7 linked regions of the Homo sapiens genome follow. The protein of the gene in region 2 purifies or fractionates together with the protein of the main gene of each other region. This does not show direct contact. Each region holds a gene or a part of one and is shown on either strand. Other genes may lie near its edges.

Evidence for each region.
Region 1: the proteins of FAM9C (region 2) and RIOX2 purify together in Homo sapiens (affinity purification with mass spectrometry; one large-scale study listed by BioGRID and IntAct). This does not show direct contact.
Region 3: the proteins of FAM9C (region 2) and AGGF1 purify together in Homo sapiens (affinity purification with mass spectrometry; one large-scale study listed by BioGRID and IntAct). This does not show direct contact.
Region 4: the proteins of FAM9C (region 2) and SESTD1 purify together in Homo sapiens (affinity purification with mass spectrometry; one large-scale study listed by BioGRID and IntAct). This does not show direct contact.
Region 5: the proteins of FAM9C (region 2) and NEK9 purify together in Homo sapiens (co-immunoprecipitation; one large-scale study listed by IntAct). This does not show direct contact.
Region 6: the proteins of FAM9C (region 2) and MORC3 purify together in Homo sapiens (affinity purification with mass spectrometry; one large-scale study listed by BioGRID and IntAct). This does not show direct contact.
Region 7: the proteins of FAM9C (region 2) and RASEF purify together in Homo sapiens (affinity purification with mass spectrometry; one large-scale study listed by BioGRID and IntAct). This does not show direct contact.

The regions. Positions count from the first base shown.
Region 1 is NC_000003.12:97,958,585-97,962,738, reverse strand, and holds part of RIOX2 (ribosomal oxygenase 2), read left to right. Parts: intron 1-1,030; coding exon 1,031-1,150; intron 1,151-3,559; coding exon 3,560-3,688; intron 3,689-4,154. UniProt on the Homo sapiens protein: Oxygenase that can act as both a histone lysine demethylase and a ribosomal histidine hydroxylase. Is involved in the demethylation of trimethylated 'Lys-9' on histone H3 (H3K9me3), leading to an increase in ribosomal RNA expression.
Region 2 is NC_000023.11:13,034,589-13,038,494, reverse strand, and holds the end of FAM9C (protein FAM9C), read left to right. Parts: coding exon 1-54; 3' UTR 55-79; exon of another isoform or gene 80-2,476; 3' UTR 2,477-2,878; downstream 2,879-3,906.
Region 3 is NC_000005.10:77,033,130-77,037,283, forward strand, and holds part of AGGF1 (angiogenic factor with G patch and FHA domains 1), read left to right. Parts: intron 1-1,288; coding exon 1,289-1,391; intron 1,392-2,411; coding exon 2,412-2,614; intron 2,615-3,426; coding exon 3,427-3,591; intron 3,592-4,154. UniProt on the Homo sapiens protein: Promotes angiogenesis and the proliferation of endothelial cells. Able to bind to endothelial cells and promote cell proliferation, suggesting that it may act in an autocrine fashion.
Region 4 is NC_000002.12:179,254,410-179,258,563, reverse strand, and holds part of SESTD1 (SEC14 domain and spectrin repeat-containing protein 1), read left to right. Parts: intron 1-4,154. UniProt on the Homo sapiens protein: May act as the primary docking protein directing membrane turnover and assembly of the transient receptor potential channels TRPC4 and TRPC5.
Region 5 is NC_000014.9:75,116,828-75,120,981, reverse strand, and holds part of NEK9 (serine/threonine-protein kinase Nek9), read left to right. Parts: intron 1-401; coding exon 402-472; intron 473-2,046; coding exon 2,047-2,152; intron 2,153-3,655; coding exon 3,656-3,787; intron 3,788-4,154.
Region 6 is NC_000021.9:36,318,633-36,323,257, forward strand, and holds the start of MORC3 (MORC family CW-type zinc finger protein 3), read left to right. Parts: upstream 1-1,564; 5' UTR 1,565-1,632; coding exon 1,633-1,671; intron 1,672-4,625.
Region 7 is NC_000009.12:82,997,038-83,001,191, forward strand, and holds part of RASEF (ras and EF-hand domain-containing protein), read right to left. Parts: intron 4,094-4,154; coding exon 3,859-4,093; intron 3,534-3,858; coding exon 3,396-3,533; intron 3,280-3,395; coding exon 3,132-3,279; intron 1,410-3,131; coding exon 1,328-1,409; intron 90-1,327; coding exon 1-89.

The sequences.
Region 1 (4,154 bases), on a different chromosome or scaffold from region 2:
ATTGATATTTGTAAAGCACTTGGAGACAGTGCCTGGCACATAGGAAGTGCTAATATCTACATGGCCTAATTGCCCCCCTCCTCTCTTCTCACCAGCCTTGGTAAAATCAGACTTCCTTCTCTCTCCTGGGAATATATGGCCCATCGCTAGGCCCCTAAGTCTGATGTCTGCTCTGAAGAGTTGATAGTGGAGAGAAGGAACATTACCCAGCCTGTTATTTCTTCTCTGTCTGTACCTTCTTCCCGTGTTATCATTTCTGTTCCCATTGCTTTAAATATCCATTTTGTGTAGGCAATTCCCAAGTGTAAATCTTCAGTCCTTAGTTTCTGCCAGAACTTCAGACCGACTTAAAGACATCTCCATGTGGGGGGGGGGGGGGGGGTCTTAGCATTCCAAACTTAACATTCCTAATATAAAACTCTTTTTTTTGTCCTGAAAACTTGTTTTTTAGTAAGTTTTTCCCATCTCGTTACGTGGAAAGGGGAACTGATTGCCCAAGTCAAAAACCCAAGAGTATTTTTTTTAACTCCGCTCCTTTACATTGAGTCTGTCGGCAAGTCCTGTCTGTGCTGCTTCTAGAGTGCATCCCACTCTTCTACCTCCCTCCTTGCCTTTCTTACCACCCCAGTCACTTCTCGCTTGAGCTGCTGCCTGAGAAGCTTCCTCACTAGTCTCTCTGACTTCCACTCTTTTCTACAGTGCATTCTTCACACAATAACCAGGGTGAGCTTTCAAAAATGTAAATTGGATTGTGTCCTTCCCTGCTTAAAAGCCTTCCGGACTCCCAATTGCCCACCTTGTCAGTCATCCCTTTATCTGTTCACGTCTGTTACATGGTGTTTCTGCACTGGAATGGAAGATTTTTGAGACCATGGGTATTGGCTGTATCATTGCATAATTCCCAGTATCTGGTGTATAATAGTTGTGCAGTAAAGACTTCCTAAGTGAACAAGAACATGCTCTTATTCTTATTTCTAATACATTTTTCACTCCCCCACGCCGACCCTTTCTTTTTTCCTTTTTTGTAAAGGATGAGCTTTGGAGGATCCAGGAGAAGCTGGAATGTTACTTTGGCTCCTTGGTTGGCTCGAATGTGTACATAACTCCCGCAGGATCTCAGGGCCTGCCGCCCCATTATGATGATGTCGAGGTAAGAGATGGAGAAAATTGCCCCATGTTGGGAAGAATGAGTTGTTGAGAGCCTGGTTTAGTAGAGTTGTCAGGGTGAGTTCACATTATTCTCTAAGGCTCTTAGGTCTGTATTCGCTCTTTCTGTGCAGTTTCTGAGATATTGATTTCATCAAAATGTTGGGCCAAAGTAAATCCCACTAAACTGGTTTCCTGCTCTGTCTCAAAGGAACAGCTTGTTTCCAACCTTACTAATTTAAAGAGCCACACATTCGTCTGAAACAAGTATTTATTGAATTTATCTACAGAAAGGTGTGCTTGGCTTTTCCTTTAATTTCACAAAGTATGGTCTTTAATAAGATGAGGTCACAAATAATCCTTCATGTGCTTTCATTTTGTTCTTTTTCAGTAGCTGCCAAAAATATGTATATATTTTCCATTTGTGAAAATCTTGGGGCAGCTTGAATGAGGGTCATGGTTTCACTTAAGCATTGGCATCTTGACAAGTGTTGATTTCACTCTGATATGGCTTCCAAAAAAATTTAACTCTTTGGCTTATGTATTCCATAGTTTTATTTTTGTCCTAATATAAGGTGTAAACACAGAGTTATTGGTAAAAAGTCCCCTTTTTCTCCTTTGATAGCAATTTGACATCAATACATTTTCACAAAATGTTATTTTTAATATTTTTAATAGAATATCTTTGACTGAATAAAGAATAAAAAACTCGAAGTTTTCCTATCTCCCCAGGCCCTTTCAACATTCAGGATTTAGACATTCAGTAATATCTGAAGCTTGGCTTTTCCATCAGAGATTATGGGCTTTTAGCTGTCTGATAGAAGATTTAAAGGAATGAGATAGTGGGATATAAAGAACTCAGCGAGGCTCTAAGAAAGTGAAAAGAATGAATATCCAGTGTCAGGATTCACGATTCCGTTTTTAAAAATAAAACCCAGTAGTGGCAACTTTTGTTTAACTGTGGAATGACATGCATTTCTCATCTTTCATTTTTATTTTTTATCGGAAACTTGACCCTTGTGCAGTGTGGGGGTTAGTGGTGCCAACACCTCATGCAGTCAAAAATCTGCTTGTAACTTTTGACTTCCCTAAAACTTAACTACTAGTAGCCTTCCATTGCCTAGATATCTTACTGATAGCATAAATTGGTTAACACTTATTTTGTATGTTATATGTGTTATATACTTTATTCTTCAGTAAAGGAACCTGGAGAAAAGTTATTAAAATTATAAGAAAGGGAAAAGTATTTTTAATATTGTGTTTATCAGTACCGTAAGTTTACATCATTTGTTTACAAGCTGAATCGTCCATCTGAAATGGTGGGTAGCCACAGCTGCAGGCCTTAATCTACAATACACATCAAGCAATTCAACTTTTTCTTGTAACGTTACGACTTTTTTCTGTTTCTCGGGAGTACTTGCAGTAGCAGTAGTGGCACATCATATGGGTCCCATGGTGTTATTCACGGCTTAAGTTGTTGCACTAAACATGATGAAAAATACACAAGAACTGTTGAGAGATCATTTTTTACTGTGATACACAATTCACTGGAGAGAGGAACTGCTCATGTGGAGATAATTAGCATCACACTTGAGCTCGTGGCAATAGCAACAGGAGGTAGCACAAAATTATTACAGTAGTACAATATGTACTAAAGTTAATTTTATTCAGCTATTCCATATTGCATCTTTAAGTTTGTTTACATTTCTTGACTGCAAATGGTGGTCTAGAAGTATTTGTATAGGTAAGTTTTGATAAATTTTAACCTTCTGTAATAGATTTGTGAATATTTTATGGTAGTAGATGATAGACTAGTATCTACATATGTTTTTATATTTGATGCATTTATGACATTCTTAATTCTTTTGATATTTTTCATGTTTTTCAAATTGTTGCAAATCTCCTCCAAATTTTCCAATATAATTTATTGAAAAAAATCAGCATATAAGCGGACCTGCACGGTTCATCCCCATGCTGTTAGGCCAGGCGTGGTGGCTCACGCCTGTAATCACTTTTGGAGGCCCAGGTGAGAGGAGTGCTTAAAGCCAGGAGTTCAAGACCATTCTGGGCAACAAAGTGACACCCCATCTCTACAAAGAAGATAAATTAGCTGGGAGCTGTGGTGCATGCCAGCTTCCCAACTACACAGGAAGCTAGGGCAAGAGGATCATTGGAGCCCAGGAGTTTGAGAGGCTGCAGTGAGCTGTAATTGTGACACTGCACTCCAGCCTGGCCAGGAGAATGAGACTGTCTATAACAACTAAAAAAAAAAAAAAAAAAAAAAAACCTGTGTTGTTCAAGGTTCACCTATATATTTGTCTATTAGCCCCTTAGAGGGCTAATAGTCCGGAAGCACTTTGTGTGTGAGTTGTCAGGAAGCTCTCTGATGCTCCTGGGCCTTGTGGGTCTCTAGGTTTTCATCCTGCAGCTGGAGGGAGAGAAACACTGGCGCCTCTACCACCCCACTGTGCCCCTGGCACGAGAGTACAGCGTGGAGGCCGAGGAAAGGATCGGCAGGCCGGTGCATGAGTTTATGCTGAAGGTATGTGATAACCGTTGTGGGCACCTCATTGTTAGAGCCATTGTGGTTTCCCCTATTGCTAAGACAAGTTCAGGCTCAAGGTTTAGAGTTCGTGTGATGGTCCCCGTGGGAATATATCCCTGGGTTTCAGGGCAGGGTGCTTCTCATTGCTGTCAGCCAGCACATGTAATTTCTGAAGGAGTCTTGGTGGTTTGCACTTGGAGAAGTGGGTTAAGGAAGTATTAAGTTCATTTCCCAAATAACCTGTTTTCATGTACAGTTCAAGTCCAACAGGAAGAAAGAGAATTCAGTGAACCACTGACTCCTCTAGAGGAAAAATGGAAGCTCTGGCCTTGGGCAGCTTCTCCACATCCAAGACGATGGTCAGCACAGGGCTGGAAGTTGCTTAGGCAGAACATAGCCAGGGATCCCTTAGTTTTTTTTGTTGTTGTTGCTAAAATTCCAGTGTGACTCATTTTCATCCTGG
Region 2 (3,906 bases):
CAAGAGCAACAAAAGAGGTGGCAACAAGATGGGAAAGGAACTGAAAGAGATTGAGCCACCACACGAGCAATTCACAAAGGTCTGTTCTATTTGGTAACACAATACGTTCTTATAAAATACAACACATGCATAAAAATAGAAGACAATCTGCTTGTTTCTGAATGTATGGAAAGACATTTTGGTTATACATTTTAAATTACTTACCATTTTCACTTTGAATGTGTTGTTCCAGATTTAACATAAGTAGTAAATAACATAAAATAACATAAAACAGTATTTTTAGGATTCATGAATAGTTTTGTAGGAGTTATTTAGAACAGGAAAAGGTAAATTGGAAATTTTACCTAGAAATATACATCTTGTGTATAAAAATTGATACCTTATGAACACATTAATGAAGACTTTATTTTCAGTTTTTAGGAGATCAGCGACAAATCTTTAGTGGAAGGCAGAAAGTCCATAAGTCCTTTCTGGATGTCTTTTTTACTTGTGTTGTTTCAAGAGTTTTAGTTAAATAGGAAGTAGGCAAATGTAACTACTGAGTATCTCTTTTGTTTTCTGCTGTAATGTAGGAGTGTTTTATGGCATATTCACTTTCAAAATTATTAGTGACTAGTAATGGTTTTACATGACAATTTGTAATCATAAGAGATGGTTCAGATGTATAACAGAATGGGAAAGCCAGCAGATTATTAACATGTTGTGAATTGTGAATTATCTGCTGTCGTACAGCACATTAGCAAATTGTCATCGGACAATGACCGCTTCTTCATGTAGATGTATATTATTTAGGAAGCAATGGAATTCCCTTCTGGGAGGTAAGATATTCTTTTTAATAACCTTGTGGAAAGACATGTTCATATGTCACTCCTCTACACTAACTGAGATGTGTTAAATAAACTGGGAAAAGAGTTTGAAAATAGAATTTTCAAGCAACTCAAAGATTATCTATACACAAAACGGTTATTTATATAGAAGTCACAAGTAGAGAACATGTTGCTATAATGTTCCCCAGAAACCATTTATTAATTGGTATGAACATGAGACTAGAAAAGTTTTCCTGTCAATGTTAATGCTACATGTTACCACTTAGGGTAGGAACTTCGGTATCATCTTGGACTCTTCTGAGTCCATTATCTTTCACATACAGTTTTCATGAGGCAAGTTTTACTCTGCAATGGTCCTTAAATTTCTTTTTTTTAAATTGCCACTGAGGCAACCCTAGTTCAAGAACTCATTCTTCCTTGCTTGTACTATTAAACTCTTTTCTGAGTTCTCTCTTCTCTTCTGAGCCACCCTTCATTGATCAGAAATACTATCTTCCTAAAACTCTTCCCTTCCTAAAATGCTTCTAGCCCTTCACTCTTCCCAGCCTATCAGTGGTATCCACATGTCAGTTCTTAGATATTCAGAGACTCTCCCCTTTACATGACCCCCTCTTAGGCTTGTTTTACTGCCTTCTGTCTTTCTTCCCGCCTCTCCAGGTTGACAGCCTTCTCTGAACGACCTCTCCATTACTCTCATGCTTTGCTCATGCTCTTCCCTCACAATGCTTTTAAAGTCCTTTTTTTTTTTTGATCGATTGAAATCTTTTGCCAACTAAGTGGACATCAGTCTCCATTTTTGGCTACATGTCCGAGTGAGTTGCTCTTCCACAGCAGTTACATAAGTTTTGTATTATTTTTTTTATTCGTGCATATTTGCTCATGTCACAGGAATATGGAAGAGATTGTGTATTCATTTTTTACATCTTCCTCAGCATTAACATACCACTTTTTAGGGAGTAGGAACTGTTGAACTATTTGTTGAGAGAATAGTATATATTTCAAACATAGTTATGTTTTCTCTAACTTGATGAGGTCATGTCACAGACCATTTTATCCCTTCAGTGGAAACCATGTTATGTCGACTATTAGTGATAACAAATGGGTCACTATCTGGTGAAAAAATATGGTATTTCATGATCTAAGACTACCAGTCTTTTTCTGTTTTTGCTCCATCTTGACCATAACATATTCATCAAACCATTTTCTTCAAGCAAAGTACATGACTGTTGGACCTGCTATAATAATATTTCACTAAAATCTGGCATTAAAAATTTTAAGTATTTGGAGCTCCATGTACTGATTACAGTTTTTAAATTTGAAATAAATGACCAGCATCCTTTGAATATTAAAAGCTGTTTCCTTTTGACATTTAATTTACTCTCTTTAAAATGTGAGTTGTAAAGTGATGGTTTGTCAGTGAACTAGACTTTTTGTTTTAGAGTGTGAGGACTTGGAAGAGTATAATGAAAGCCCTCTTTTTGGTGAAGAGAGTCAACTTAAAAAATAAATTGCCATGTTCCAAAATAATATTGTGGTAATTGTAAGTAGTGCATATTTTATCTTAAAAACTCAGGATTGATGTAAGCACTGGAATATTTTATTTGTAGAAATGTGTATCGCAATTACTTAAATTTATTTTTTTGAAACAGCTGCAGCAAGAGTTGGCACTTATTCAGATGTATCTTCAACCTCTGTTATTCTGGTGACTGACAAAAGAACTTGAACCTATGTTATATGATACATGCATAACTTGAGCTACACTAAACCACATGACAGTGTTTAGTTAATTCTTGTATAAATTAGTATATCTCTTCTATTATTAGTCTGTTTGTTAAATGCCAGACCACGTTTCTATGATCTGTTGAATGAACCCTAGACAGTTCTGTGAGAAAGCAGCAATTGCACAGTTACATACACAGTCAATTAAATTTTAACATTAAAGATAATTTAGTTTTAGGTTTGGCCTCTGTGGATCTGTATCAGTTCCAAAATGTGGAAAGCACGGGCATGGAAAAGTACATTTTTCTCTAATAAAAGAAGACAAACCCTTATTTTATCTGTGCATTCTTTGTATTTACTCATTAAGTTAAAGAAGCAATTCCAATGAAAGCAAGACTTCAAAAAATAGATAAACTCTGTGGCCTTTCAAAATTATTAAAAGTACCTTAACATCTGTGTTCTTGAAAAAATTAAACTACTATAAATGATTGAGACAACTGAGCAAGATATATTAATATCAGTGCTGAGCCACCGGCTTCTGGGTATGTCATTTCCACAGACATCAAATTGCCATTTGGTTTGTTTTGGTCCACCATTCAGTGATATCTCCCCTTAACATTGATTCAAAGTATTTTATTAACATTTATGTATGCTTACAATTATTTCACATCTGTGGCAAGGTAAATTATGTAGGGTGCTTTGTTTTTCGAGTTTAGTATTTGTGGAGTATGTGGAAGTTTAAGTATACATGCATCTAAAAACTTAAGTGATGAATTCTCCTACCTTTCCTTTTGTAATGTGCAGTTGTTACATGTAACAACATACAAAATGTTCATTTGGAAACACTTTATTTAGTAAATATGAAATTCAGAATATATTTGGAGTAAGTCAGTTAAATGTATTCTTTTGCTGAGTTTCTGAAATTCCATTCATGAATTGTTCAAAACACAATACTCCCATTGGGAGGAGAGGAGCGACTTCCTCTCATTTTTCCTTGTGCTTTTTATTTTAATTGGCCCCTATATACCACTCTTGTTTTTCTAGGTTTTCCAAGTTTAAGAAAAAAAGAAAAACAAGTTCATTCAGATTCTGTTTTTCTGCCTGCAATCACTTATGCAGGAATAAGTGAGTCCTTATGGGGAGCATTTAATTCCTAAAGTTTGCATTTTCATAAAGGATTTTCCTTTTACCCAAAGCATGTGTTGGTGTATAAGTCTAACTACTACTTCAAGTTTCTAAGAAGATCCTCATTTGAGATCTGCAGAGGTCCATATGAGAGTTCTATTATACACACTGGGCTATATAACGGTTTATTCCATAGTGGAAGGACAAGAATTAGGACACAATGTACTTAGTGATG
Region 3 (4,154 bases), on a different chromosome or scaffold from region 2:
ACTCTCCTAGTCAGCCTCCCTTGGTTGGGGAGAGGGTGGATTCGATTAACTGTCATTCCAAATTACTGAATGTGTTTTATTTGGAGCAGTTAAAAAGTTTTGCTTGAGAATGATAACTGGAGAACCATAATATGTATAGGGTTTGTACAAGACCCCAAAATAGCCTTGTGCAAATTACTTTGTCTTGTCTGATATTTTATGTGTAAAATTGGGGTTAGGACAACGAATATTTCAGGTGGTTTTGTGAATTAATGAGATGTTATCTAAAGCATCAAGTATAGTGCCCAGCATGTAGTAGATACTAAGTAATCTAATTCATAGTGATAGGGACAGTAGCCAGAGCCAGGATTTAGGGCAAGGCAATCAGGCTCCTAGGGCGAGGAATTTAATGGGGCACTAATTCCCAGCGATGAACTCTGTACTTGCATGAATCAGAGGAGCGCCTCAGATTTTTCACGATCAGTGTCTTGCTTCCCTCACTGTAGTTCCTGCCCTAGTATTAGCAACAGATCAGTTTTATCACCTTTCTCTGTTTAAGCTTTATGTATCATTAAATAAATATTTAAAAGCTTGTTTTTTAGTTGGTTTCTTGTGTGTAGTAGACATTGTCTCACATTGAGGTCCTCTCAGGCTGAGGTGTATTGACTGAGGCAGCGTATTGACCGAGGCAGCATGTTACTTGCTTTTGGGCACTTCCACACACTTGTTTCTCTCTGTCCTATGTAGTAGCATCCTTTTAAGGGTATTTTAGTGTGTGAAGTACATGGAGGACAGATGCCCCTCTCAGGCCGTCACCTTCCCTGTTCTCTTCTGCTACAGTTACTTAATTATAGGACTACTGTTTAATGAAAAAATGTATTAAAGCTTGTAAGTGGCATTAACATATTCAGGTGGATAGTTAATTCCCAGTGGAGAATACCAAATGAGTATTAGATAATCCAGTAGGGATGAGAATTTGTAAATTTTGAATTTTTGAATTCTTTAGAACTGACTTTAAAATGTTAACATAAAAGCATTCTTATTTGTTAGAAATAAAGGACCTTGTTCACAAAGTCTCATTATTTAGTTCGATTTTTGGAGGAGATATTTGGACATTTAGTAAGAGAGATTAGGAATAAAAATGCCTTTTAAATGTATAAAGTAAAATAATAATTTTAGCTTTTCTGAAAGGGAAACTTGCTGCTCTTGACATTTCTCTAAAACAATTATTTGTAACGGTAGGAGACTGGTATATATATTATTAGATTGTTACATGATTTCTTTTTCCTAAAGCCTTGTTTTCTCTCAGGTGGAAGAACTCAGTAAAATACTCCAACGTGGGAGAAATGAAGATAATAAAAAGTCTGATGTAGAAGTACAAACAGAGAACCATGCTCCTTGGTCAATCTCAGGTATTTAGCTTATAGTGAGGATATGCTAACACTGTTACATTCAAATCATGCTAATGTTGCGTTTTCTTTTAATTTAAAATAAACAAAGATCAAGGTAAATGAGAATTGTTAATACTGTTGACGTCTCTCCATATGATAATGGTATTTTCGGATAATCAATTTGTTCTTCTGGAGGAAAAAGTAGAAATGTATTGTCATTCCTGTGATTTCTATAATGTTGCTAATGTTTTCAGTGGCACACTCACTGAGTAATTTTTGGCAGGCAGTTAGCCATCTACTTCCATATCTGCCTTCCTTGTGACCAGGGGCATTTGTTTTCTTGTTGATGTGTTCTAATTAGAATTATGTATAGTATCAGTCTCTCACCCTTGTGGGAATGGTGAGCCCACCACCATGGCCTTATGAATGGCATTATGTTATAAGGCAAAATAGCTGAGATACTGAGTTTTAATATATATGTGTCACAAGAAGAAATCATCTTTCCTATTAAGTTTTGCCTTGCTTCAGTCAGGACATAATTTTTGGCTAAATTGCTAAACATAGCAATAGTGCTAACTTTTCTTATCTGCATGATACGTTTTAAAAAGTCTGCATGGGGAGAGAAATTTGCCAAAAAATAAATCAATCCCTAATTCCTTGCCTTTATTTCATTATCAGTTGATAAGCAACAGTATTAAGGTATCCAGTTAGAAGTTAAGAGTTAAGTTTTTTAAATAGAACACAACCTATCTACAGATTTTTATTTTACTCTTGCTGTAGAAAATGTAACCAACTTACCTTTTTTTTTTCTTTTTAACTGACAGCTAGGGTCTTGAAGGAGACATTAGAATCAAAGATACACACTTCTGCAGATTTATCTGTGCCATCTGTTTTAATCTTTTAAAATTTGTACAGTTGTAAAAATCATGATTTATTTGAAGTATGTGCTTTTTGTGTTTAAATGCCAGTGTTTTGTAGTTAAGTCCTTTTTATATACATTATTCTAATATGATACGATTTCACTTCATTTTTTTGCTACAGATTATTTTTATCAGACGTACTACAATGACGTTAGTCTTCCAAATAAAGTGACTGAACTGTCAGATCAACAAGATCAAGCTATCGAAACTTCTATTTTGAATTCTAAAGACCATTTACAAGTAGAAAATGATGCTTACCCTGGTACCGATAGAACAGAAAATGTTAAATATAGACAAGTGGACCATTTTGCCTCAAATTCACAGGTAATAAAATGCTAAACATGAAACTGTTGATGCCCAAGAACCTGTCCTTCTTTGTTGTTATTATGTGGAAAGATAGACTTCTTTGGTCCGTCACAGCATATATAAGGGTTATAAACATTCTTATGTGTAATTATGCAAAGAATGTTGTAGTTTTTCCAAAACCAGAATTAGAACTTCTTCATATATGTAGTGGTTTTCCTACTACATTGTGTTCCAAAATTTTGTGATCTACATAAACTAAAACAAAATTTGTCCAGATATTTTGACTGAACAAAAGAACTGTGGACAACAATACCACATTTACACCTAAAAAAATTTTAATGTTCCTTTATGTCAGATACCCTGCCACTATTCAAATTTCCCTGAATCTATAAATTTGTTTTTATAGTTTGTTTGAATTAGGATCCCTATTGTGTTTGATATATCTCATTTAATCTACAGTTTTCTCCTTCATTTGTCTTTTTGAAATTTTTTTTCCAATTGAACATATAATCATTGAAGAACCTAGATCTTTGTCTTAGCCAATATTTCAGGGTCTGTATTTTGTGGATGGCTTCCCTGTGGCATCATACATTTATTCTCGAATAATTGTCACTCATTTTTAGTGCCTTCAAAACTGGGTCAAAGTTGAAGTTACTGACACACTAGTAAATGTTGTAATAAGTGGTTCAAGTCATAATTGATAGTCATGCTTTTCCTTTGTAGAAATTGAAGTCGTTACTTAAACATAGTCTCAGGTCTTGAGTTCAGCCAACTTTTTAATTGATATACAGAAGCTTTTGTCTTATTTGGCATGACTATATCTTTTATAGGAGCCAGCATCTGCATTAGCAACAGAAGATACCTCCTTAGAAGGCTCATCATTAGCTGAAAGTTTGAGAGCTGCAGCAGAAGCGGCTGTATCACAGACTGGATTTAGTTATGATGAAAATACTGGACTGTATTTTGACCACAGCACTGGTTTCTATTATGATTCTGTAAGTATCTCAGACCTTTTTGTTTTGTTTTGTTTTTGAGACAGTCTCCCTCTGTCACCCCGGCTGGAGTGCAGTGGAGTGATCTCAGCTCACTGCAACTTTCACCCCCCAGGTTCAAGTGATTCTTATGTCTCAGCATCCCAAGTAGCTGGGATTACAGGCATGCACCACCACACCCTGCTAATTTTTTGTATTTTTAGTAGAGGCAGGGTTTCGCCATGTCGGCCAGGCTGGTCTCGAATTACATCTCAGACCTTTTAATACTGTATGATACATACTCAGTGCCTGATATCAAATATTAAACCCTAAGCCGAAGTAAGAAAGCAAAAAGCTGCATTTAAAATTATATTTGACTCAAAACTATTTGACAGAAGAATTCTAAAATAGCTTATGATGCTACACTTCTAAGTTTTTAAAATAAGGTTAAGGTTAAAATAAATTTTATTGTGATTATTATAGACAATGTTTTGGAGAAGTCTTTATGTATAAAAATAACAGACAAAAATACTGGAGCTTTTGTTAATAAAAGCAGATAGTTAACTACATCGTAAATATTTTAGAAC
Region 4 (4,154 bases), on a different chromosome or scaffold from region 2:
GTAGATTTGCAGAATCATTTAGAAAATGAACCTGCCTTTGTCAATTGGTTTGTAAAGACCTATTGATTATATTCTTGAAAGATAGTAATATTGTCTTTCCTTTAGTGGGTATTGCCAGAGCTTTTGCTTATGAGTTTCATTTTATTTGATCAGGTTCAGTGATATTGATTTGGTATCCTTGCATGCTTTGTGCTAGGGATGTATGAAACAAAATGCTTTTGAGAGGTCATGAATTGTGATTCAGTAATAGTTTAGAAAGTTTAGGAATTCTATCTATTGGGGCTTCAGTTAGCATGTTTTTGTAGTAGAAGTGGGAATTACTGAGTTTAGGTTAGATAATTTTTATCAGAAAAGTCTTGAATTGCACTGTGTAAATTCTCACTGACGTTGCATCTTTTCTGCAGAATACAAAATACTTTGGAGCTATATATAAGAATTAGAAAACATGGTTCTGTTTTCAAGGAGTTTATAATCTGATTAGGGAGGCAATGAAGGAAGAAACTGAGTAAAAGAATAAAGAGCTCTTAAAGCTTGTGTCTTGTCTTTGTAAAATCAATTTTGCCACATTGGGCTTTGGTAAGGTGTCATAGGTCTCTCCTGAGGGACAATATGAGAAACATCTAACCCTTTGAAGACTGGTGGTTATGTGTCTCCTATATTTTGATCATTCTATGGGGTTCTTTTTGCTATACGAAATTACTGTTTGGTTTAACTACCAAGGTAGCTCCCCTTCTGAGTACTTCTCTGTGTATCTCTTAGATTGCCTGGGTTTTCCTTTTTGTTATGGCTACTAGAAAGCCAGAACTAGATTTGTGGCCCACTCCATACCGTAAATAGGTTTTTATATTATACAATTTTTAGCCTTTTTCTTGGCACCATTTTTGGTTCTTTTCTCTATTCTTTGCCTTTATCTTTAGTTTGTTAACTTGTTATAGTTCATTTATTGTGTCTTTAATCCTTTGCAGAACAAAATGGGGTATATACAAATGTAGGCATACCTCTAAGATATTGCCAGTTCAGTTTCAGACCACCACAGTAAAGCAAATATCTCAATAAAGCAAGTCACACGATTTTCTGTTTCTCAGTGCATATAAAAGTTATGTTCACACTGTAGTTTACAAAATGTGTGATAGAATTATGTCTAAAAAATGATCTACGTATATCTTCATTTAAAAATACTTTATTGCTTAACAGTGCTACGGATCCTCTGAGCCTAAGTGAGTTGTAATCTTTTTGCTGGTGGAAGGTCTTACCTTAGTGTTTATAGCTACTGATCAGGATGGTTGTTGCTTGAAGTTTGGGGTAGCTATGGTAATTACTTTCTTGCCTTTTTCTTTTTTTTTCATAAGGGCAGCCCCCTGAACCAGAATAGGTTCAAGATAGACTCCCTCATTCTATGACATAGAATGAGATGTGTCCTGATTTTAAATAAAATTGAAAAAAAAACAACAACCCACCAGTGAAGTATGCCACATTGATGGACTCTTCTTCTCATGAAAGATTTCTCTGTGGCATGAGATGCTGGGTGGTAGCGTTTGAGCCATAGTAGAACTTTCACAATTTGAGTCAGTCCTCTCAAACCCTGCCACTGCTTTATCAACTAAGTTTATGTAACATTCTAAATCCTTTGTTGTCATTTGAACAATGTTTATGGCACGTTCACTAGGAGTAGATTCCATCTCAAGAAACTACTTGCTTTGCTCCTCTGTAAGAAGTGACTGCTCATCTGTCAGTTTTTTTTTTTTTTTTTTTGAGGTGGAGTCTCGCTCTGTCGCCTAGGCTGGAGTTCAGTGGCAGGATCTCAGCTCACTGCAACCTCTGCCTCCCGGGTTCAAGTGATTCTCCTGTCTCAGCTTCCCGAGTAGCTGGGACTACAGGCTCCTGCCACCATGCCCGGCTCATTTTTTGTATTTTGAGTAGAGATGGGGTTTCACCGTGTTAGCCAGGTTGGTCTCGATCTCCTGACCTCGTGATCTGCCTGCCTTGGCCTCCCAAAGTGCTGGGATTACAGGCGTAAGACACCGTGCCCGGCCCCATCTGTTAAAGTTTTATCTTGAGATTGCAGCAATTCAGTCACATCTTCAGGCTCCACTTCTAATTCTAGTTCTGTTGTTATTTCTACCACATCTGCAGTTACTTCCTACACTGAAATTTTGAACCCCTTAAAGTTATCTATGGAAGTTGGGATCAACTTCTTCCAAACTCCTATTCATGTCAGTATATTTTGACCTCCTCCCATGAATCACAAATGTTCTTAATGGAGTCTAGATTGATGAATCTTTTCTAGAATGTTCTCAATTTACTTTGCCCAAATCCATCAGAGAAATCACTATCTATGGCAGCTATAGCCTTTGAAATGTATTTCTAAAATAATAAGACTTGAAAGTCAAACTTACTCCTTGATCTGTGGGCTACAGAATGACTTTTGTGTCAGCAGGTATGGAAACATTAATCTCCTTGTACATCTCCATCAGAGTTCTTGGATGACCAGGTGCATTGCCAATGAGCAGCAATATTTTGAAAGGAATCTTTTTTTTTTTTTGTCTGAGCAGCAGGTCTTAATAGTAGGCTTAAAAGATTCAGTAAACCATGCTGTAAGCACATATGCTGTTATCCAGGCTTTGTTATTCCATTTATAGAGAACAGACTGAGTAGATTTCAGTCAGTTCAGAATGGTAAACGAGCATCGGCTTTCACTTAAGGTCACCAGCTGCATTAGCCCCTAACAAGAGAGTTAGCCTGTCCTTTGAAATTTTGAAGCCATTTACTTCTCTCTTGCTATGAAAGTCCTAGATGACATCTTTGTCTAATAGAAGGCTGTTTCATCTACATTGAAAATCTGTTGTTTAATGTAGCCACCTTCATCAATTATCTTAGCTAGATTTTTTTGATAACATACTGCAGCTTCTACATCAGCACTTGCTGCTTCATCTTGCACATTTATGTTATGGAGATGGCTTCTTTCGTTAAACCTCATGAACCAACTCCTACTAGCTTCAAACTTGCCTTCTGGAGCTTCCTCACCTCTCAGCCTTCATAGAATGGACTAGAACTAGTGTCTTGCTCTGAATTAGGCTTTGGCTTAAGGGAATGTTATGGCTGGTTTGGTCTTCTATCCAGACCACTGGACCTTTCTCCATATTAACAATGTGGCTGTTTCACTTTCTTATCATTCGTATGTTTTCTGGAGTGGCACTTTTACTTTCCTTCAATAACTTTTCCTTTGCATTTACAGCTTGACTAACTGTCACAAGAGACCTAGCTTTTGACCTCTGTTGTCTTTAGACATACCTTCCTGAGTAAGCTTAATCATTTCTAGCTTTTCATTTAAAGTGAGAAATGTGACTCCTCCTTTCACTTTAATATTTAGAGGCCATTGTAGGATTATTGATTGGCCTAATTTCAGTATTATTGTGTCTCCTGGGATAGAGAGGCCTGAGGAGAAGGAGAGAGACAGGAGAAGCCCCAGTCAGCGGAGCAGTCAGAATACACACAATATGTATTGATTAAGTTCGCCATCTTATATGGGTTTGATTCATGGTGCCCCCAAACAATTACAGTAGTAACATCAAAGATCACTGATCACAGATCACCATAACAGATATAATAATAATGAAAAAGCTTGAAATGTTGTGAGAATTACCAAAATGTGACACAGAAACACAAAATGAACACATGCTGTTGGAAAAATGAGCTGACAAACTTGCTCCACTTAGGATTATCACCAACCTTCAATCTATGAAAAATACAATATCTGCAAAGCACAATAAAGTGTATTAAAGTGAGATATGCATGTAAATATACCTAAAATTCATGGCAAATATATCGAGGCAAACAGATTAATATAGTGGGGACTAGATATGGCAAGTAGGTTTTATTTCATGGGCTAGCTTTGATTGATAGTGAAGACTGCCTGGAAGACTGCATTGAGAAGTTAGTTGGACGCAGCTTCTGGATTAGTGGGAAAGGATACTGTGATCATTGAGCAGTGTTTATTGTTATGAGTAGGAGTAGTGATGGCGTTAGTGCCTGTATTTGCTGTCCCTGGTGTAGACAGAATATTCAGAATGCTAAATAGCACATAGGTGGGTGGCTTTTAAGTTTAAAGTTAGGTTTTGCAGGGAGAGATGTGGATTTGAGGAAAAATGGCTGGT
Region 5 (4,154 bases), on a different chromosome or scaffold from region 2:
AGAAAGGAAACCTCTAACAAGGAAGCTGTCTATAGCTGCTTCCTAAACGTTTTACCTCCACATCATGATTCTCTGTGGGCTTTCTTTCCTGGTTCTATTACTGCGTACTGGTATGCCCAGTTTTCTATAACTTTGCATTCTTCCTGAATTTTCCTACATGTCTGCTTTACCATACTATATATTATAATGACATTGGAACTATTTTATGAGGAACCTGTTTTTTGTGGTTTTTTACCCCTTCACTTTTCTTTGCCTACTCAACCTGCAAGGAAGAGATGTCAAGTCATGTTGAATCATAACTTCTGGTTGCAGTTTTCTTTGTTTTGTTTGTTTATGTGTGTGTGTATTTACTTAAATGGAGCTTTTTGTTTCTAATCCAAATATTTATTTTTTCTCTGCAGATGGTGGTGTGGTACCTATTTCAGATTGTTTCAGCAGTGAGCTGCATCCATAAAGCTGGAATCCTTCATAGGTAAGAAGTAAAAAAAATTATGGATGGATTCTTCCCTACCAATTCAGCCCCTACCGTGGATACCCCCCCAACAACACTTTTATTTTCTTGGTTAAGCAGCCAAGAGTTTTTCCATTGATATCACTAGGAAAGGAAAGTAATGAGCAATATTATTTTCACTCCCTGAGGTTAAACCATGTTTATGATCTAGGAAGAGTCTCCTCAGTAGCCAAGTACTACTGAAGTCATTTTACAGACAAAAATTTTAGAGTTCAGTTTGTTAATTCATCAGTAAAGCCTAGAAGGGCACTATGAGAAGTAGTATTTGGTAAGAATTCACAGCAATAATAATTGGCAATTCTTTTTAATTCTATAATTAAGATCTTTTAATTTAAATAAAAGCCTCTTCACTCTGTATATTTACTTGTACAAATTTACCAGATCTTTAAAAACAAGCATGATTGCATTCATTTCTAGCTATAGAAGAGAAGCATCTCAATAACATTTTCACATCATTATGCCCTTCTTAAGTGAGTCATTGACTGGTGCCAGAGATTAATTATAATACACTAAGATTTCTTTTTTTATTGGTTTGTTCATTCAGTTAACATGTATTTCTTGATAGCTATTAAATGGCTTCTGTTGCATGTTGTTATTTTCTTTTTAAAAGTAACAAAGTATATTGTTCTGGTTTATTCGCATCTTTCAATAAAGGAAGACATAGTGAACCAGGCACAGTTATTTTGTTTTACATATGGTCAATTTATCTTTAGAAAAATAGCCTGTGATTTTATTTAGATGACTAAATGGCCTAATCATATCATTGCAGGGACATGTAGGCCTCTTCTCTTGCCTTAACAGATTATTTGAAACTTTGACACCAACCAAGTTTGTTAAAGTTGCCTTGATATCACTTAATTCAAGGCATAAGTGATAGTTGAAGAGGTGTGGTATCTTATGGGAATTATGGTTACCTAGAGCACCATTTTCCTCATCTGACCGTCTCAACTTTTCCTAATAGCTTCAGTAGTATGGGAGATATTTCTATGCTGTGAAGCCCTAGAGGATGAAGTTAATTCTCTGCCTTCACTCCTTTAAAGTCCCCACTTCAGTGTTAAATAGCATGTGAAAGTGATGACCACTGTGGGATGTTTAGGATATCCTAAATGAATGAGCAATGGTAACACTCTTTTTTTGTTTTATTTTGTTTTAGTTTTTGAGACAGGGTCTCACCCTGTTGCCCAGGCTGGAATGTAGTGGTGCAATCATGACTCACTGCAGCCTCAGCCTCCTGGGCTCAACTGATTCTCGGTGCTTTAACCTCCCGAGAAGCTAGGACTACAAGTGTATGCCACCACTCCTGACTAATTTATTTTTTGTAGAGATGGGGTCTCACCATGTTGCCCAGGCTGGTGAAGAACTCCTGGCCTCAAGCAGTACTCCTGCCTTGCCCTCCCAAAGTGCTGAGATTACAGATGTGAGCCACTGTACCCGGCCCACACTCATTTTTATTCTGTAATAATCCTGGGCAAGGCGGGGGATGAAATAAAACAATTATCTGTGTGAACTTAATTTGCAGCATCTTTTTTTTTCAGAGATATAAAGACATTAAATATTTTTCTGACCAAGGCAAACCTGATAAAACTTGGAGATTATGGCCTAGCAAAGAAACTTAATTCTGAGTATTCCATGGCTGAGACGGTATGTGTTGCCCTTGTCTTAATTTTTATTTTATTTTCTAGCACTGTGAAATATAACTGTACTCCCTAAATCTTGCATACTTTTCTCAATATTCTTGCAAGTTCTCCATACTTTTAATGCATGTCTTCAGAAGTCTTTTTCCTGGGCCCACTAGCAGGCATTTAAGTCATTGCCCACGTTACAGCTCTGACCTCATAGCCTTTTTCCAGCACTGATTAGGGACTTATCTAAAAGCAGCAAAATGCTTTACTGTTTTGTCCAGGTTAGGATCTTTAGTAGATTTCACTTTATCTCTTATTTAATGTTTGAGCTCAAGGTGTTAGACATCTCTTTGTTTTTCCTTTGAATGCTTCTGGTTCAAAGAGAACCCTATATTTCAAGTGAAGGCTGATGCTCAGAGAACAATCCATTCTTTAATATTATACACAGTCTGAACTGCACAGGGGTCCCTTCTCACATGATTTTGAGAAAGATCATTGGTAAAGAGTAGACATAAGTTGATCTTTAGGACAGTAATCTTATCCTTTTAGGAATTATAAAACCCAGTTGTTATTCTTCTAGTTTCACAATGCTCTGTCCTTAAAAGAAATTGAAAACTGATTTTGGCCAATAATTTTTTTTTTAATAATGTCAAGGTTTGCCTGCAAGCAATTTAGATGTTTAGGGTTTGGAGTCTCTGCTTCAGGGACTCAGATGTTTCTATGATGGAGGCCAAAGTGAGCTTCTGAAGAAGCAATCATATCTTTATATGGATTTTTCTCATCAAGAACAATCTGATAAAACCAAGACTTGACTTTTTTTAGCTAGTTAAATGCAAAGAAGGAATGATATGAAAATTTATAAAAGCCATGTAAGCCATCTGAAATTTGCTTTGCTTTGCTGCTTAAAGCTGACTATGAATTTTATTAGAGCTGCTAGGGCATTCATTATATCTCATCTTGGGAGAGGCATGACTTCTTAGGACATTTTTATTTCCAAATTTATTTTTGAAGTCAGAAAATCTTTTTCAAATTCAAAGGAAATTCGCTAGCTGTGTTAGTATAACAGATGCCAAATTGGGCATTTTAAAAGTTTCATTGCGCGTATTTTAGTTAGAACATCTAATTCCTTCATTGAGTTACCATCTCCCCACTGCCAGTGTTTGGATTTTTTTCCCATTGGTGAACTTCTACTAAGTATGTCTTTAAGTTTGTGTAAAGTCTTCAGTAGGCCTTGAATGCCTGAAGCCTCTGTGATCTAGGAATCACAGAGCTATTGAGCCCCTCAAGTTACCACAGTTCCTTTGTCACAGAGATTGTCCCTTTATAATTGACCCAAGAGGTTTGATATGAATAAGATTTCTTTCCATAGTGGCATCGTCTCATAAAAACCATTTTGGAATCTGCTGATGAATGTTTTATGGTTGTTATGACTAGTTCCTAGGAAATTTAATTAAGCTGTTGAAATGTTAACATAGTTACCTCAGAAAAGAAGTTATTCTTTGATTGTTTCTTTGTTGCTCAGCTTGTGGGAACCCCATATTACATGTCTCCAGAGCTCTGTCAAGGAGTAAAGTACAATTTCAAGTCTGATATCTGGGCAGTTGGCTGCGTCATTTTTGAACTGCTTACCTTAAAGAGGACGTTTGATGCTACAGTAAGTTGGCATATTATCCCCATATTGCATTTAGCAGGTTGCAAATGGTACAGCTTGACTAAGCAGATCAACTCTATTCCCAGGCTTCTGATTTCTGGCAAAAATAACCTGTATTCAGGTACAAGATTAGTAATCTATTACTAAAATGCTATAGACCCAGCCAGGCGCAGTGGCTCACGCCTGTAATCCCAGCATTTTGGGAGGCCGAGGTGGGTGGATCACTTGAGGTCACCCCGGCCAACATGGTGAAACCCCGTCTCCATTAGAAATACAAAACTCAGCCGGGTGTGGTGGCGCACACCTGTAATCCCAGCTATTTGAGAGGCTGAGGCACAAAAATTGCTTGAACCCAGGAGGTGGAGGTTGC
Region 6 (4,625 bases), on a different chromosome or scaffold from region 2:
TGGAACCACAGGCGTGCGCCCCCAAGCACAATTAATTTTTTTTTTTTTTTGAGATGGAGTTTCGCTCTTGTTGTCCCGGCTGGAGTGCAGTGGTGTGATCTTGGCTCACCGCAACCTCCACCTCCTGGGTTCAAGTGATTCTCCTGCCTCAGCCTCTCCAGTAGCTGGGATTACGGGCATGTGCCACCACACCCGGCTAATTTTGTATTTTTAGTAGAGATGGGGTTTCGCCATGTTGGTCAGGCTGGTCTCAAACACCCGACCTCAAGTGATCTGCCCGCCTTAGCCTCCCAAGGTGCTGGGATTACAGGTGTGAGCCACCACGCCCTGCCAGCTAATTCAATTTTTTTTTTGTAAAGATGAGGTCTCCTCGTGTTGCCCAGGCTCGTCTCGAACTCCTGGGTTCAAGAGACCCTCGCAATGTAGCCTCTCAAAGTGCTGAGATTACAGACATGAGCCACTGCACCCAGCCAATTTCTCTTTCTAAAAATAATTAATTTTTTTGAGACAGTCTCACTCTGTCGCCCAGGCTGGAGTACAGTGGCGCGATCTGGGCTCACTGCAACCTCCTTGTCCTGGGTTCACCCACTTCTCCTGCCTCAGCCCCCCGAGTAGCTGGGATTACAGGCGCCCACTAATATGCCCAGCTAATTTTTGTATTTTTAGTAGAGATGGGGTTTCACCATGTTGGCCAGGCTGGTCTTGAACCCCTATCAAGTGAACCCCCAACCTCGACCTCCCAATGTGTTGGGATTATAGGCATGAGCCACTGCACCGGCCTTATGCCTTTAGGACTCTTATTTATTTATTTTGAGACGGAGTTTCACTCTTGTTGCCCAGGGTGGAGTGCAATGGCGCAATCTCGGCTCATTGCAACCTCCGCCTCCTGGGTTCAAGCATTCTCCTGCTTCAGCCTTCCGAGTAGCTGGGATTACAGGCATGTACCACCACGCCCGGCTAATTTTGTATTTTTAGTAGAGATGGGATTTCTCCATGTTGGTCAGGCTGGTCTCGAACTCCCGAAGTCAGGTGATCCGCCCGCCCACCTCGGCCTCCCAAAGTGCTGGGATTACAAGCGTGAGCTACCGCGCCCGGCCCCAGAACTCTTTTTTTTTTTTTTAAATCATGAGTTAGATTGATAGTTTTCAGGGCAAATCCAAACAGTCTACATTAATTTCCGTCTTTATTTCGTTAAGGTTTCACATGGACACTGGTGGATATGGAATGGCTTTTTTCTGCGCAATTCACATCCGACCAGGTCAAGTGACTGGAGTTCACCGGTCTCGGGTATACCGCATCTCGCGCCAGGCTTCAAACTCTAGATCCCCGAGTCTCGAGCTCCAGCTGGGTGTCGAGACGGGTACGGGCCGGCCGCGCCTCGCGCATGCGCCCTAGGCCCGCAGGGCCCCGCGCTGGAAGCTCAGCTCCCACTGTACCCTGCTTTAACCAGTCAGGCAATTCATCTTCCCCAAGCTCCCAATTCGGCATTGCCTGGAGGCGGAAGTGGGTGGGAGGGGCCAGACGTGCGCCCCTCCCCGGAAGTGGGCGGTACCCATAGGGCTCCACAGTCGTTCCGCCACCTCCCAGTCGGGTTGCGGCGGAGGCCGTTCCTGGCTTTGTAGCTCGCTCAAGATGGCGGCGCAGCCACCCCGCGGGATACGCCTCAGCGCGGTGAGCAGCCGCGAGGGGTGGAGCGGGCCGTGTCCCAGGAGGGCGGGCGGGCAAGCGAAGGGGGGCCGGCAGTGGGCGGTGGCGGCTTGTGGGGCCGACGCGGCGGCGGGGGCTGCGGCGGGGCCCGGGGAGGGGGCGGCCATCTCGCTCCCGTCGGCGGAACAGCTCGGCTGCGGGCCGGGCTGCGTTCCGTCGCCTCTGCATTGTGTTTCTGTTTTGCTTCGGGGCGGGCCAGGGTCGCGGCTCCTCCTCCCAGCTCCCTCCTAGTCTCCCAGCAGCTGTCGTCCGCGGGCGAGGCCTCGGCGGGAGATCGGTCTGCTCTCGGGGCCGCGGGGCCCCTGACCCTCTTCTGTCCGCTGGGCGTCGTGGTGGGAGGGAGCGGGTTCCGCGTCCAGAAACGCCGGCGGCCTCGACGTCCCGGGGGCGGGGGGACGGGGCTGCGGGCCTGCCTGCGGGCGAGTGGAGTCAGGATGAGTGTGCCTGATGCCTGTCAGTGCCTGCAGCTTCCTTGGCAGTGGAAGCCTTGGGGCCCAGACCCTAGATCGCTGAGCTCGAGCTCTCCTCTTTATCCCGCGTTGCGTCTGTTTTGGGGCGTTTCGAGTTCTTGGAAACCCTGTGAACATTTCTTGTATCTTAAATCGTAGGGAGCGGTCACACAAGATAACTTGAAATCTCACGTCCAGGAAATGTGGGCGTGGCTTCCCCACCTGATTATCCTAAAAAACTTTTCTACCTTGTGAGCGCAGTTGATGTTATGCTGAAATGTTCCTCTTTTCTGGAGGTTGTTGACTTTTGCCAAAGAATGACTGCCCTAGTGCCACTAATTTTAACATTCGAATGGGTAGTGACTCCTTGGGGTACAAACACGTAGTGAATAATTGGTGCATTGCTCTGGGACTTTCATTCGTTTAGGCAGATTCTAACACCTGGTTTTGACGGACTTTAAATTTTTTCTAGTCCGATATTTGTGAAATGATATTTGCTTTTACTTGCGTTTCCTTGACTGTTTGTGTTGTTGAGCTCTTCGCATGTATTAGTCTTTGTGGTTTTTTGTTTTGTTTTTTTGAATTGCCTATTCATATCCTTTGACCATTTTCTGTTTTTCTTTTGGGAGGATCTTTATTGATTTGTAAGAGTTCTTTACGTATTCTGGATAAAGGTCCATCCTTTCGTTATGTAACTAGCTTATTGAGTGAGCTAGGCTTTAGTAGTTTGAAAATAGAGGACAATTTTATTCTTTTTTTCTTTTTTTTTTTTTTAACCACTGAGTGTAAACATTAATTATTCCCCACTTGTGTGAATCTGGGTTGACTAACGCTTTCCCATTAGCTTAAGGTATTGTAAAGTCTGGCCTTACCTAGTTTAAAATCTCTATTCTCTCTCCCTCCCTTTTCCCCCTCTCTTTCCCCTATCTCCTTTCCCCACTTCTCTCTCCTTCCTCTCTCGAGGTTGAGTCTTGTTCAGGCCCAGAAACCTGTAGTGGAGAAACGGAGTGAGTTGATTTCCTGTTTCTGTCCTTTGATTCTCTTCTCCCTTCCCGCCCCCAGGCCCTTGTAGACTCTGGCTCTTCAAGATTGAGGGGAGAAAGGAAGCAGAGATAATGGTCAGTGTTTAGAGACCAGCATTGTTAGCGGGCACTCTGGGTGTAGCTGCTGTCCATGTGCTGGGTCTTTGTTTTGTGGGTAATATGGGCTGTTGGGAACCTGACTGACAGAAATCTCCCATCTGCAGCCTCTTTGCTTTTGCTTTAGGTCAGGAGTTGGCAAACTACATACAGCTCATGGGCCAAATCCAGCCCAGCACCTGTTTTTGTGTGGCCTGAAGGCTAAGAGTGATTTATACATTTGTAAATGGTTGAGAAAAAAAGAAGAATGTTTAGTGACATAAAAATTATGCGAAATACAAATTTCAGTTTCCATAAAATTTTATTGGAATATAGCCAGAAACATTATTTGCTTATAGTTTTCAAATGCATGCGTTAAGAGATAAAAATTAATGAGCTTATGTATTTGTCAAAAGTCCTACATTTTAAGGCACAAAGGGTGAACCCTTAGTGTATACACTTTTTTATTTTATTTTATTTTTTTGAGGTAGAGTTTCACTCAGTCTCCAGGCTGGAGTGCAGTGGCACGATCTCGGCTCACTGCAGCCTCCACCTCCCGGATTCAAGCACTTCTTCTGCCTCAGCCTCCCGAGTAGCTGGGTTTACACGCGTGGGCCACCACACCCGGCTAATTTTGGTATTTTTAGTATATATAGAGTTTCACCATGTTGGCCAGGCTGGTCTCAAATTCCCAACCTCAGGTGATCCTCCTGCCTTGGCCTCCTAAAGCACTGCGATTACAGGCCTGAGCCACTGTGCCCGGCCCAATGTATACACATTTTAAACAGTCATTTAGGAGGTCGGAGATCCCAGGATGAAATGCAGAGTGACAAAAAGTTTTTAAATTTTTTGCTTTTTACCCCTGTAATTCTAGTGAAATGAAATGCATATACTTTGGTTTTTGTTGTTGATTTTTTTTTTCAGAAATGCTGCTGTGGATTTAGCTGATGCACACTCTTCACCACCTCCCATACTTCAATGCTTTTTTCACTTTTTTTGGTTGAATTACTATATGGTTTGTTATTACTCTTACAAATGAGCTAGCCAGGGTAGTATGATTGCATTTTCTTTCCTATACAAACCTTTTGTTTTCCCTGAAGTTAATTGATTTATATTTTGTTTTCTTAGTTTTTCTCTGTACTGATCATCCAGACATCCAGAGAACTGGGAGCTCTTTTCCAGATGGATTCAGACACACCCAGTGTTTTGTCATTTGGAAGTCAGTTGGGAGTCATCGGCTCAGTCGTAATTTGGGGACTTCCCTTTAACATCTGTCTGGAAATTTCCTTCCTCTTTTCATGTGTCTCCATCTCACATATCCTTCTGTCTGATATGTAGCTTAGTGACTGCC
Region 7 (4,154 bases), on a different chromosome or scaffold from region 2:
TGTTAAGAAAGCTTTTCTCACATGTAACATCATACAGCAGCAAAACACCATCTGCCTTTCTGAAGTAAGACTTGGCAATACTTCTGAATCTGAGAAAGAGAAAACCACATCATCAGTCAGTTTGTGTTGCCTCATTCTTCTTCTCTTTTATGCTCATTTTTTTCTCCTCTTCTAAAATCAACACCAGTTGAGAAGACTCTAACTGCAATATATGACTGAGACATAGGCATTTCAAAGGTCTCGAATGACCCAATGAAAGGTAACATGATGAGAATCTGGGTGACCGACTTAGAAAATCCAATCCTTCTCTCTACCAAACAACCCCAAGAATGTCTACAATCCCCAGAGCACAACCAGGGAAAGGTTGAGAGCACAGTTTCCAAAAATTTCAACCTCAGCAACAAGCTACCAGAACCCACATGTGGGACACAGAGGAGGCTGGAAGGAGATACGAACTAGAGAATACTTATTTTTGGTGGTGGTGGTGGTTAGGGAGTATTGTGGGTGGATGGAGGAACTACCAGTGTGGAACGCTGTAACATACCAGGACTTTACATACATGGGGGTCAGGAGATTCACCTTGGGAAGAGAACACCTCAACACACATGCCCTAACTTGAAACCCAGTGCAATATTTTATAAGTATTTTAAATACAGTCATGTCAACCACAAATATTTTTTATATGTTGAAATTCCCAATCTGCTAGAGAATATGAGCACCATGGGGGCAGGTATTTGTGCCTGTCTGTTCACCACTGAATCTCAGCATGCTGAATAATGCCTGGTACAGAGGCAGGCACCCCATACTTACGGGTTGAACAATTGAATGGATTTTGTTCCGAAGGAGTTAAACAAGATTAAAATCTGTGCTTAATGCTCTGCTTATCGGTAATGAATGCAAGGTAAAGTGCCATCACCAAATGCAAGTCTGCTATGCGGTTTGTGCCTCTGCCCTTAATCAAGGGGAGCTGACTGGTTCTCTTCTCCATCATTTATTGTTCTATAGCCAGGGAGTTCCTCAGGCTGTCACTGCACTCAAAAATGCTGCCTCTCATGTTAGCAAAGGGCACTCTCTGTCTCAACTGAACATCAGCTCAAAAGAAGCTTAAAGATCCTCTTCTCACAGGAGTCATAGGTAAATGAAGGAGATGTGCGAGAATATAAGCATTTTAAAGTTATAATACATTTTATAATTATACATGTAATTATGCATATAATTATAAAGTATGTTATAATTATAGAATTTTGAGTATGAAGAACATCAAGTGGCCTGCAAGGCTTGTTAATGCAAACCCAGGATATCCCATAGCGCTGCGGAATGCACTTGCCTCTCCTGACCAGCTGTATCCCAGAGCTGCAGAACTGTTCGTTCTCCATCCACAATGAGGGTTTTCATTTGGAAATCAACTCCTGAAAAGGAATGTGAGAGTGGAGAGCACGATGTAAATAATTCCATTGGCTTTTTACTTTCAAGCCTTCTTTAGATGAAGCAAAAGCCAATAATACACAGCTCAGCCAGGGAGGGAGGAATGAACATGACCTTTAAGGAGAGTGACCTTCAAATAGGAATGACAAGTCAGACCACACGTGTGTGCAGAGGCACCATCTGCAGGTTGGCTGACTTGGGGAATGATTTAATTTATGAGCCAAGGGAAAAATCTGTTTTATTTTCCCTGATGACTGGATGAACTCAGTCATATTTGTGTGTGTGTGTGTGTGGGTGTGTGTACATGTGTGTATGAGTGGGCATGCATGAATGTGCAGGTGTATACGTGTGTGTATGTATGTGTGTAGGTGCAGATACGTGTTTTGTGTATATGCATGTATGTATATGTATATGTAGGTATATATGTATAAATGTATGTATATCTAAACATGTATACATATGCGTGTGTATATATACACACGTTAGTGCACACACACATTTACATGCATCATGGTCTCTGACAACTGAACCAAATACTGTATGTAGTCTTTTTATGAATCAAATTGAAGTAAACTTTCAGCTTTGTTAATGTTGAAGAGTGTATCAGAGAACCATAAATTTACAAAGACACTCATGTGAAGAGGACAATCAGTCTGTTCTAACATTTCGGGTGATCAAAATAAGAACTCTTTAGACGAAGAAGAAAAATAAATGATAATTTGCATATCTTCAACTCCTTTTACTATTATGCAAATTTGGGAAATCAGGATACTACTTGTTCTATTGTTCTGTTGTGAAGGTGGGTAACGGATCATATATCTGGCTATGATTTTGACCATAATGACAAAGTGGCAATCCATATTGTCACTTTGTCAACATCAAATACTTCAGCAGAAAGGGTTTTCCTGGCCACCCTGCGTAAAACCGCACCTCTCCCTAAACTTCTTTTTTGTACCTTTTCCCTCCACTGGGATGTAAGTGCAGTGCAGGCTGGGATTGTCAGCCTTCTTCATGGTGTATCGTTTGTACCTACAACAGCATCTTGTTTTTAGTGGGACTCAGGAAATACATGCTGAATAAATGAATCTGATATCTCAGGATCTAAATTTGATTCAATTCATCTGATTGGCTAAGCAGATATCTCTCTTTTTTTTTTTTTGTGGCAGGGTCTCACTCTATCACCCAGGCTGAAGTGCAGTGGTGTGATCTCGGCTCACTGCAACCTCCGCCTCCCAGGTTCAAGCGACTCTCCAGCCTCAGCCTCCCGAGTTGCTGGGACAACCAGCACCCACCAGCATGCCCAACTAATTTTTGTATTTTTGGTAGAGATGGGGTTTCGCCATGTTGGCCAGGCTGGTCTTGAACTCCTGACCTCAAGTGATCTGCCTGGCTCGGCCTCCCAAAGTGCTGGGATTACAGGCATGAACCACCGCACCCAGCCAGATATCTCTGTCATTTTAATCTTCCTTTCCTAAAAGCAGGCCTTGGCCAAAACAAGAAAGACCTTTCCATAGACTAGGAGACACACACACACACACACACACACACACACACACACACACACACACACACACATTTATATATGTGTGCATACACAGAGAAAGAGAAAACTGTTAACTGAGCATCTGTGTATGTAATCCCTGAAGAAGAGAAAATCAAGCTAAGGAAGGTCATTTTCCCATTATCAACCGAAATACGAGCCATACCCAGGGTGGCGCTTATATTTTCTCGAAATTCATTCTTGCAAAGTCTCATGAGGAAACTAGACTTCCCCACTGCAGCGTCCCCAGCAAGTACAATCTTGTAAGCCTTCTGTGAGCTAAAAGATTTAGCGTTGTCATCTACCAGGTCTGTCTGGGGGGAAAAGCCACAGTGAATGATAACGGTATTGCCAGTTTTCATCCTAATAAGTAACACTGCACAGAAAATAAGCAGTGTTCATGAATAGGAGTGTCTCGGAGACCACCTACCTGGGGCGAGAGTGCTGAGATGGGCTTTCTTGATGAACTAACAATGCTGCCTTCACTAACAGACCCTTGGGGCTTCCAGTCTAAGACGGAAGCCACATCTTCTAAACCAAATGTCTCTTCATCCCTTATGTCAGGAACCTATTTTTTTTAAAATGTCAGCAGTTAAATTAAAAAATGTCAGCAGTTAAAATACAAAGTCTAAAATGTATACATTATGGATTAAAAAGAAGAAAACTATGCAGCTAAATCAACAGTCAATGCTATTAATATTAGGGAATAGAGTGACACTGAATGGCAATCTATGAGAATTTCTCCCTAACTCTGTGGAGGAAAAAGCATTTTACTAACTATGCTTTACATCTATGACCTTTAAAACAGATTTCCATGACAGATAGAAGGCAAATAAGGTGACAGATTTCAATCACGTAGAAGGCCTAGGAGAGCAGTGGTTTCTGGGGCTTACATCTGTGTCTGAAGCATCACCTCCAAAGCTCTCCTGCACCCCGTGTGACCTCTGAAATCCCCTCTGGTGCTTGTATTCCACTTCTGAGTCATACTCATTGGGATCTCTCAAGGTAGACAAGCCGCTGTCGAAGCAGCTTTCAGGCAGGCTGTCAACTTCACAATTTGTCCTCTGCAGAGGATCACAGAGGGCCAGGGAGTCACAGTCCTCATCCACATAGGAAGAGCGGGATGACCTGGTAATAAAGGGGAAGACCAATTTACCTGAGGGCTGGAAATGCTCAAGAACATACAGGC